Regions from separate parts of the Homo sapiens genome. Here region 1 is linked to region 2. Evidence: fine-mapped expression QTL. A gene starts in region 2. The other region holds a variant in brackets. All regions are shown on one strand. Distances are between the middles of the regions.

Region 1 (5,380 bases), 48 kb after region 2:
GCAGGTCTTATTCTCTACAGACAAGAATCAGAAGGGAACGGAAATAACATGTGTTGGTCTATTGCCTTACTATATGCTAAACACCAAGCTAGATGTTGTCCATGCATTATCTCATTTAATTCTCACAGACGCCTCACACAGTAAATCTTATTTCCTCATTTTATAGATAAGGAAACTGGAATTTAAAGAGTTTCTTATCTAAAGTCATACAGTTTGTAAGTGGTAAAGCTGAGATTTGAAACCAAGTCTGTCTAATTCAGGGCCTACTTAACAGTGCATCATACTTCAATGTCCCTATTTCCCCTCCTTTCCTAAACAAGCCGTACCAAACACCTTGGGCTCAGAACTTTATTTACCACTGCAGCAACCAGAAGGTGTTCTAAAATCTCCTTTGCCCTTCAACTTTTCTCAGTAAGAGACTTTTTTTATGTGCTTCCAGCATTCTTCCCACTGCCTCCACCAGCACCTACCCTCTTGCTAACCACTACTCTCAATTCCACAATGAATACTCTCTGACCTGACCCTCGTTCATACATTACAGTCCTTCTTGTCCTCACTTCTCTCTTCACTATGTGATCTACTGAATATCCTGGATTTGCTTCCTAGGGTAGGCACAGAACACATTATTCTTGTATCATCTGAAAAAATACTATAACACCACCACAAGCTTGGGTTGCTCAGAGGGCTAAAATTTGCATTATTTCTTGAATACATAAATAATACATGTTTATTGTAGAAAAAACTAGAAAATACCGACAAGTTTAATTTTAACTAGCTTTTTTAAACTATAATCCCACCGATCAGAAATTCCAATCTTCTTTATATGCATATTTACCTATGTAAATATACATTTTAGGGACATCTTACATCTTACATCTGTCTTAAACTGTCTTACTGCAATTTGCTTTTACATTAAACAACATATGATGAACATTTTCTATACCAATTAATATAAAAAATATATTATTGGCTGGGTGCAGTGACTCATGCCTGTAATCCCAGCACTTTGGGAGGCCGAGGCAGGTGGATCATTTGAGGTCAGGAGTTCGAGGCCAGCTTGGCCAACATGGTGAGATCCCCCATCTCTACTAAAAATACAAAAATTAACGAGGCGTGGTGGCACGTGCCTGTAATCCCAGCTACTCAGGAGGCTGAGGCAGGAGACTCGCTTTAACCCAAAGGCGGAGGCAGCAGTGAGCCGAGATCACGCCACTGTATTCCAGCCTGGGCAACACAGTAAGACTCCGCCTCAAAAAAAAAAAAAAGAAAAGAAAAAATATATATGTGTGTGTATATATATATATGTGTGTATACTTTAACAGCTACAGAATATTCATTTGTGGGCACATACTCTGAACTTTTAACCAAACCTTTATTTATTGGATATATCAATTATCACATTGTAACTATCATAAATAATGCAATGGAGTATATTCTTATACATATGTCTTTGCATTTGTTTCCTTTTTTTATTTCCCCATGAAACAATTCTGTTTCCTTATGACAAATTTCTAAATGTAAAATTACGACATTAATTTTTAAAATTTTAATAATACCTTATCAATTTTTCTTTCAAAAACATCATATTAATTTTTATTTTTTATGTTTATAAAAATAATACATGCTCATTATTTAAAATTCAAATAAAATATCATCCATGTAGTATTGCTCCCAAAAACTATCAACAATAAGACAATTTCAAATTGAAGGATTTCTCAAAAATAACTAGCCCAGACTCTTCAAAAATGTCAGTGTCATACAAGACAAAGGCTGGAAATCATTCTAGATTAAAGATGAAGGAGACATAACTAAATCCAATGTATTATCCTTGAGACAACTGGAGAAATGTGAATATGGGCTGTATATTAGTTTGGGTGGGGTTTTGTTTCTTTTTTTTTTTTTTTGAGACAAAGTCTCACTGTGTCACCCAGGCTGGAGTACAGTGGCCAGTGGCATAATCATGGCTAACTACAGCCTTGACTTCCCAGGTTCAAGTGATCCTCCTGCCTCAGCCTCCTAAGCAGCTGGGACTACAGGCACTCACTACCATGCCCAGCTAATTTTTTTTTTTTTTTTTTTTTTTTTGTGTAGATGGGGTTTCACCATGTTGCCCAGGCTGGTCTCAAACTCCTGGGCTCAAGCGATTCATCCCCGTCAGCCTCCCAAAGTGTTGGGATTACAGGCGTGAGCCACAGCACCCAG[C/T]CATAATGTTATATTTCCTGTGTATGATATATTTCCTGTGTATGTTATATTTCCTGTGTATGATTTCCTGAGTATGATAATTATATTAGGGTTGGGTAAGAAAATATTCTTGCTCTTAGCAAATGTATGCTTAAGTATTTGGGAAAGGAAATGTCATGATGTATGAGGCTAACTCAAATAGTTCATTAAAAAATAGAGAAGGATAAGAAAATGTGGCAAAATACTAACAATTAGGAGATCCAGGAGAAGAGTATAACAATATTCATTGTACTATACTAGAAATTTTACAGTAGGTTTGTATAAAATATTGTGGAAAAATACTTGAAATTTTTAAAGCTCAAATAATGCAAAGATATATAGTTTATACAGGTTGAGCTTCCCTAACCCGAAAATCCAAAATGCTCCAAAATCTGAAACCTGTTGAGCACCAACAAGACACTCAAAGGAAATGCTCATTGAAACATTTCAAATTTCAGACTTTCATATTAGGGATGCTCAACTGCCTAATGCAAATATTCTGAAATCTGCAAACATATGAAATTCAAAACACTCTGGTCTCAAGAATTTTCCATAAGGAATACTCAACCTGTATAGAGAACTCCTAAGTCTCAACACACACAAAAAATCCAATTCAAAAATGGTCAAAGAATGAAACAGACATTTCTTCAAAGAAGATATATAAATGGCCAATAAGCCTATGAAAAATGCTCATTATCACTAATCATTAGCAAAAATTCAAATAAAAACTTAGATGAGATAATACCTCACACCCACTGGGATGGCTACTGTCAAAAAAACGAAATAACAATTGTTGGCGAGGATGTGGAGGAATTATAGCCCTTATGCACCGTTGGTGAGAATGTAAAAGAGTACAGCCACTGTGGAAAACAGTATAGCAGTTCCTCAAAAAGTTAAAAATAGGCCGGCACAGTCCAGCCTTTGGGAGGCCGAGGTGGGTGGATAGCTTGAGCCCAGGAGTTTGAGACCACCCTGGCCAACATGGGGATACCCCATCTCTACAAAAAATATAAAAACTTAGCCAGGTGTGGTGGCATGTGCCTTTAGCCCCAGCTATTCAAGAGGCTGAGGTGGGAGGATCACCTGAGCCTAGGAGGTCGAGGCAGCAGTGAGCTGTGATTGCACCACTACACTCCAGCCTGGGCAACAGAGTGAGACCCTAACTCAAAAAAAAAAAAGTTAATAATAGAATTATCATATGATCCAGCATTTCCACTTTCATGTTTATAATCAAAAGAATTGAAAGTAGGGTTTTGAAGATATATTTGTACACCCACGTTCATAGCAGCATCATTTACAATAGCTAAAACTTGGAAGCAACCTAAGTGTCCATCAACATACGATCGGATAAGCAAAATGTAGTATAATCATACAATGGAATATTATTTAGCTTAAAAAGGAAATTCTACAATATGCTACAACAGGGATGAACCTTAAGGACATTAGGCTGATGAAATAAGCCAGCCACAAAAAGACAAATGCTTTATGATTCTACTTATATAAGGTACTTAGAATAGTCAAAATCACAAAAACAAAGTAGAATTGTGATGGCAAGGGGCTGGAAAGAAAGGGAAATGGGGAATTATTGCATAAAGGGTAGAGAGTTTCAGGTTTACAAGGTGAAAAGATGGTTGCATTATTAATATACTTAGTACCACTGAACTGTATACTTAAAAATGGTTAAGACAGTAAATTTTATGTTATGTGTATTTTACCATAATTTTTAAAATAGAAAAAACATGCATAGCCTACTAAATTGAAGCCAGTCATAATCAGTCCCCAAAGGTAGTTATTTTTAACAGTTTAATGTAAAATAGTCCAGATCTTTCCTAGATATTTACTAAATACATATACATACATACTCTTTTAAAATAGAAATGTGATGTATCATATACTATTTTGAAATTTGCTTTCATTTAACAATACAACTTAGATATCCTTCCATATTAGTACATCTCTCTCATTTTTTCAAGAACTTGTTTTAAGCAAATACATGAACATCTAAAGAAAGAATAGCCTCTGAAAGACCTTGCCTACATTGGAAACGGCTCAAGAGAGCTCACCCGAAATTCCATGACATCCACAAATGACTGGTAGTAGTTGGTGAGGAATCTAATTATCTCGGCTTTTTCACGATGTACTGGTCCTAAATGTTGCTGAGAGAAACACAAAACAAAACAATAAAAAAGTGCAAAATAAGACAATTGATCCAAATAACTCAAGAAGAACAGTGGTTATACCTAAAACATTCTTAAAGAGGGTTGAGGCCGGGCGCAGTGGCTCACACCTGTAATCCCAGCACTTTGGGAGGCCGAGGCAGGCGGATCACCTGAGGTCAGGGGTTCAAGACCAGCCTGGCCAACCTGGTGAAACCCCGTCTCTATTAAAAATACAAAAATTAGCTGGGCGTGGTGGCGGGCGCCTGTAATGCCAGCTACTCGAGAGGCTGAGTCAGAAGAATCACTTGAACCTGGGAAGCAGAGGTTGCAGTGAGCCAAGATTGTGCTACTGCACTCCAGCCTGGGTGACAGAGCAAGACTCCATCTCAAAAAAAAAAAAAAAGAAAAGAAAAGAAAAAGAAAGAGAGTTGAAATATACTGACAGAGGAAGTTAGAAACGCTTCAGTGCTCTGAAGGTCTTTAAACAAAGGAGATTGTCTATCTAGGTAGAATGGTTGCATGTGATCCTGACTAGATACAGAGGGCTAAATGAGAGGAAATTTTAAGCACCCTTTCAGATGAACAGATATACTATTTATATCAAAGTCAAAAGAAACAGAATTCAAAGATGCTACAAAGATGGGTGAAAAATCTAGGGTTAACATTTAATAAGGGAAAAGTAGAGATATCCCATTAGATGCAGAAATCTAAGACAAACAGCAAGGAAACAGTGAGTGGGAAACAGAAACAATAAAATACATGTACCCTGCTGGGTTGATAGAGCTGTCTTGTACAAAAACAATGTTTTCCCATGAATCTTGCAATGGAAAAGGGGTGATGATTCGCTCCAGCTTATGCTGGAAGAATCCCATCTTATCTCAAAATGCTCAAGACTTAAAGCTCTACAACAACCTGAAGCCCTGTGGTTGAGCCTTGGAAAACTATTAATAAAAAAAGACTACTCCATCCCCTGCCAAGTTTGAAGAGAGGCATCAAAAGAG
Region 2 (5,371 bases):
TCTCTTCAGCTCATATGATACAGATTAGATTCTGAATTTATTTTTGACAGGGTCTTAGTGTGGGAAACAGAATTCTTGGATGCTCTTCCCAACAAAAAATTGCCCTGCACTATTATATTAGTGTGGGCTTTTTATCCAGAGTCAAAAACACCAGGCCTAGTCTCCCTGAAGAAAGTCTGGATGTCCTGATTAGAAATTAAAAGGGTAGAAGGGGGGGAATAGGATGTGTTGAGTAGAAGAATCTAGATAGATAGTTAGATAAATACATACAAGTATATATGCCATGTTTCCATTTCCAAGCAGTACCCAGTCCTAAGATAATCATGTCTATTTCCTATTTCCAGACTTAGCAACCCCTTCCCACCTTGACCAAAGGGGCAGGGGGATCTTTATTTCCACTTAAAAGGGGGAACATCTCCTTTCTCACCTATTCAGAAACCATCCCATTGAGAGGGTTGGGAAACTCCCACCTCTTACCCAGCAAAGCCCTAAATCCTTTTATTTCCCTTCATCTGATAGTCAAAGCCTCCCCAATATTCAAAAAGGCAAAATCCAGTAGGCCATCAACATAGATCAAGTTGGGATCTACCTTGATTTCAAGGTCTTTCTCTGCTTTAAGGACGTAAGACTGGGAATCTATTCCTGCCAATTAATAATCCGGAGATTGTACTTTTTTGGGTAAGTTATATTACATGTAGCTAGCTTTATTTTTTACTTGTAAATTTATTGTACAAAGCTAGCATTCTTAAGGACCAGACTGCTGAAGTGAGTGAAGACCAGAATGATCTAATCAATAAGAATAGGGATCCTTGTCCACCCTAATCTCATGTAAGGACATCTCAGCTAAGGCACTCTGGAGAGACAGATGCCTCTACTCCCTTCTCTTCCCAGGTTTCATGCCTCCTTCTGGGAATCCTCTTCTCTCACCACTGAGCACTTCTCACACTAAAGGAAGAAACAACAATTCATTTTCAGGAAAGGCTTTTGGTTAGAAATGTGTGGGAGATAGTGAAACTAGTAATACCCACTCTTTCGCAGGGCCCTGTTACCTGGAATACAGGCAAGGTAAGTATGATGAGCCACTAGTGTTAGGGGAGCCATCCTGAATTCTCCCATTTATGGACCTGGGGCCCTTCTTTACCTTTCAACTACTTCCTTATCTGCCCCTTTCCCCAGCTCATTTACCATTAACGCAGCGTCATTTTCTATCAAGAATCACACAGTGCTCCTCCCAACAAAAATCAGTTCAATCTGGTTTTCCATTTCTTCATCCCAGAACTCATTCCAAGGCTGTGCTTCATAGAGCCCAGCAAATTGGATTGGCCAGAGGCAGCCAAGGAGGAGGACTGAGAAGTACATTTGGATTCCAAGCCTTGTTGCCCACTATGCCTCAGTTCTCCCTAACGCCTCTCCAAGTAGCTAGTGTATAAATCAGACCCATCTGCCATAAAAAGGTGTCATCTTATCACCATAGGTGAAGTATTTAAAGAACAATACAACATAAGCATCTATCCATCCCCTACCCCCATCTCTCCCTCTCCCAGAACCCAGAAATAGAAAGCTTCGGTGCTCACTATGGAGAACATTGAGGAGGAACTGGGTTCAGGGCTATGTTTACTGTGTTTCCTCTCTAAACATCCATAGTCTCCTATCTGTTTCCTCTTTCCTGGGGCCATGGATTCATCTCGGAGAGAGGGACATCTTCTCTTGTTCCCTGATTAAGAATCAACAGACTGCGGAGATTTCCCAATGGCAGCAGCTGACTGGGAGATAAACATGGTGCATGGCTTGTCTTTGACCCAATCCTCTTTTTTTTCTAAGGAGCAGGGGAAAAGTTCCTTTCCTCCCCTGGGACTGGAGTATCAGATACCTGAGTTCTTCCTTCCCCCATTTATTCCTCCCCACATGCCCTGGTACTGCAACAATAGGAAAAGATGCCCAAATGTGCTTGGAGATCCTGGAAGACCCTATATAAACAAAAAGCCTCTGATTAAGCCAGTTACCTTGCCTTTGTCAATCAATATTTCTTCACCATCATCACCTCCTTCAGCTTCCAGGTGGGGGCTCCAACCCCCCCTCCAGATTCCACGTGGGTCCCCTCATCATTAATACATAGAGTGAGTTTCCAGGCCCCAAGAGATGAGCAGCTCAGGCATGGGGTAACCCCCACCCCACTTCCTGTGCATGAGGCAGAAACTACCAATCCCAACTGAGATACATATGACCCACAGGTTGGCACAAGTATTCCCATGCAGTAGATCTACAGCTGTGTGCAATCACTCCACATACCTCTGTGACCCACGCTCACTCATGCACACACATGTCATGTGGCTCACATCTGCACAACTCTGCACATGGATATGTGTGAGTCAGCCTGGCACCTCTACTGCCCTCCTGCAGCCCTGCCACACTGCATATACTGTGCTGCCTCTAGGCGCTGCGTGTGTCAGCCTGGGGTCCACAGGCACAGGCACATCGTTACCTTTGCAACTCCTAAGCCCGCTCCAACTGGCCAGCTTGCTCCGCACATGCCTTGCACATGTGGCCTGGCCACGCGTGTCAGGGCCGTGCTTCCTCGCACCTGCCAACATCTGTGCCAAAGAGAATCTACCAGCCCACAGCCCTGCTCCAGTTATCCCCCCTCCTCCTCCCGCTCAGGCTCCCTAAGGTCCCTTCCCCCCATTCCCGGGCCGGGGACTTACAGAGACCGAAGCTTAATCCACATCTTCTTGCTGGGGGCTGACTTCAGCTCCAGGGGTGACGGGCAATCCGACTCCTCCAGCATCTCCGGAGGACTGCGGGGGGACAGCTCCATGCTCAGCCACGGTCTACGGAACAGAAGGAGGAGACAGCACCTCGGCTCAGCTTCAGCCCCAGCCGAGAGACCCTCACCCCCCATCCCAGGCCCTTCCCACCTGCGGCTGGCGTGGACCAGCCAGGCCGGTGTCTCTAGGCTCGGCCCAAGCTGGCAGAGCTGCAGCTCCTGCGGCTCCTCCTCTCCCGCTGCCCAGCCGAGCTTTGGGCTCCCAGTCCAAGCTCTCCGCACCGCCGCTGCTGCTGCCGCTACCGCCGCCGCCGCCGCGCGCTGCCAGAGCCGCCTCCTCGCCTCTCTCCTCCTCCCCCGGCCGGGTTCCCCCCTCCCTCTGCTCTCCCTCCCTTCTCCTCAGCCTGCCCGCCAGTCTCTCACTCCTCACAGCCACTCCTCCCCCTCCCAAAGGAACGATTGGAAGCCGGGGGCACACACAGACAGAAGCGCCCAAGGGCGAGCGCACGCACACAGGCGCCGGGGACGAGTGGCTGCGTGTGCCCTGTACTGGCGGATGTGAGTGCGTGTTTACAGAGTGCAGCGGAGGCGGCGGGCTGGACTTCGGTGTGGGTGGTTGTGTGGGTTCTCTCCGTGTGTTTTGAGTTTCTGTGTATGTGGTTGTGGTTCCATGTATCCACGTGTGCCTAGCTGCCTGCGTGTCCCATGTCTGAGTGCGGGGTAGGGGATGAGCACACATCTTTCCCTGCTAGATCTGGACTCGGAACCCAGTCGGACCAGACCCCACCTGTGCTCCTGTCTTGGAAAAGTTCAGGGTGTGCCCTGAGCTGTGATGGCATCCCACACTTGGCCTCGGGTCCCTCAGCTTGATCTTCCCCACCTGTCTCCAAGACTGTGGCCTTCTCCATGGTACTTCTGCCTGCCCGCCTAGCAGATAGGAATTTCTTCCAAGTTCAAAGCTCTCCAGAGCAGGCATCTTTTTTTTTTTTTTTTTTTTTTTTTTTTTTTTTGAGAAGGAGTCTGTGTCGCCCAGGCTGCAGTGCAGTGGCGCGATCTCGGCTCACTGCAACCTCTGCCTCCCCAGTTCCAGCGATTCTCCTGCCTCAGCCTCCTGGAGTAGCTGGGACTACAGGCGCGGGCCACCACGCCGGCTAATTTTTGTATTTTTTAGTAGAGATGGGGTTTCACTATATTGGCCAGGCTGGTCTCCAACTCCTGACCTCGTGATCCGCCCACGTCGGCCTCCCAAAGTGGTGGGATTACAGGTGTGAGCCACCGCACCCAGCTTAACATCTTCTTCTTTGACTAGGTAATAACTCTACACAGCCAGGAAAGCATTCCTGATATCAAAACCCCTCCTGAAGCACTTCCAGCTCATTTTTTCTGTTCTGTCTTCAGAGAAAGAAATCTAGGAGCTAAAGGCCCAGCACAAAACAGCCTAGCTGGTTAATAAACATTTGTGGAAGGAGTGAACTGGAATTTGAACTCAAGACCTTGTAAAAGGGCAAAGCCTCCTCCATCCAACCGAGTCCTACCTAGGACTCTTGCAGGAACCACCTCTCTTGCTCCATATTGTTCTCTCCCTTAATGACCACCTGCTTTGGCATTGGGGAAACTCCTATGTCAACAGAAAGTGGAGATATATTCACTAACTACTGAATCCAAAACAGGCCACTAATCCAGGATCCCAGAATGTGAATTTTAATTTCAAAAAATTCTGGAGGTTGGAAGGAGGAGTGATCAGGAGAAGGTATTTACTCTGTTCTAAATACTGAGTGGAGGCTCCTCCTCTCCCAGTCAGAGAAGGAGAAAAGAAGTGAAATGGAAGGGCGAAGAAGCGGATGAACTGTCACAGCTAAGACTCCTAACATAAAAGAATTGCCAAGTTAGGTCAGCATTTAGATTCAGCAGAAGTATCAGCAGAACCAGCTCCCAGAAAGTACAGAGGCAGAAAGAGATGGCAGAGTCAGAGATGGAGAAAAAAGTGGAAATAATAAGGGACTTCCCACCCTCTGTCCATCTACCTTTAGCACACATCCCTTGGCTTTTCCCCAGACCCAGCCAAGAAATGGCTGCATCTGAGACCCTAGTCACACTCCTACACAGTCCATTTCTGAAAATTTGGGAGCAATCTCCTCCTTATCAACTGAAAATGAAATGGGCTGGAAACTACAAAAGAATTGCAAATTAGGATGGTGCTAAAGAGCTCTAATTAGTAAATTAGGATTAGAGCTAAGGAGTTTCCAAATTTAGGCAGGTCTTTAAACTAGAATAGGTGGGAAAGAGGCAAGACATACATCCAGAGGGCTCTCTCAACATTTCTTGTTAACACAGTGTCACATCCTGCTCTCCCAAGACCCCCTGCTCCTGATTCATTTTAAGGCTAATTCACACACACACACACACACACACACACACACGCACACACACACAAAGTTATTCGTGAAAGAGACATTAGAGTTCATCCACTCTAATTCCCTTCATTTAATAAATGGGAAAACTTCATAGACAACACAGTTTGATGGAAAAAGTAAAAATAAAAATAAATGAGAACTAAACTAACCCAGAAAAATTATAGGGTCTCACAGAGAGTAAGTGATAAAACCA

Alleles and levels. Positions count from the first base shown, and alleles are read on the strand shown. Sizes are in standard deviations (SD) of each study's normalised expression.
As copies of T replace C in region 1, the expression in monocytes after R848 of the gene that starts at base 3,087 in region 2 goes up (moderate effect, 0.44 SD a copy in Quach 2016).

The links.
Region 1: its variant is fine-mapped to the expression of PDE1B in monocytes after R848 (Quach 2016, PIP 0.90).

The regions. Positions count from the first base shown.
Region 1 is chr12:54,499,529-54,504,908 of GRCh38, reverse strand. It overlaps NCKAP1L (NCK associated protein 1 like), which reads right to left. Exons shown (of 31, transcript NM_005337.5): 3 at 4,284-4,376. Among named protein-coding and RNA genes, the nearest start is that of NCKAP1L, 4.5 kb to the right of the region's middle. The variant C/T (reference allele first, on the strand shown) is at 2,203.
Region 2 is chr12:54,547,317-54,552,687 of GRCh38, reverse strand. PDE1B (phosphodiesterase 1B) reads right to left here and starts at 3,087. Exons shown (of 16, transcript NM_000924.4): 1 at 2,916-3,087; 2 at 2,703-2,828. The coding sequence starts at 2,815. It overlaps NCKAP1L (NCK associated protein 1 like), which reads right to left. Exons shown (of 31, transcript NM_005337.5): 31 at 4,445-5,371. RefSeq lists an enhancer at 1,909-2,537 and a silencer at 3,103-3,162.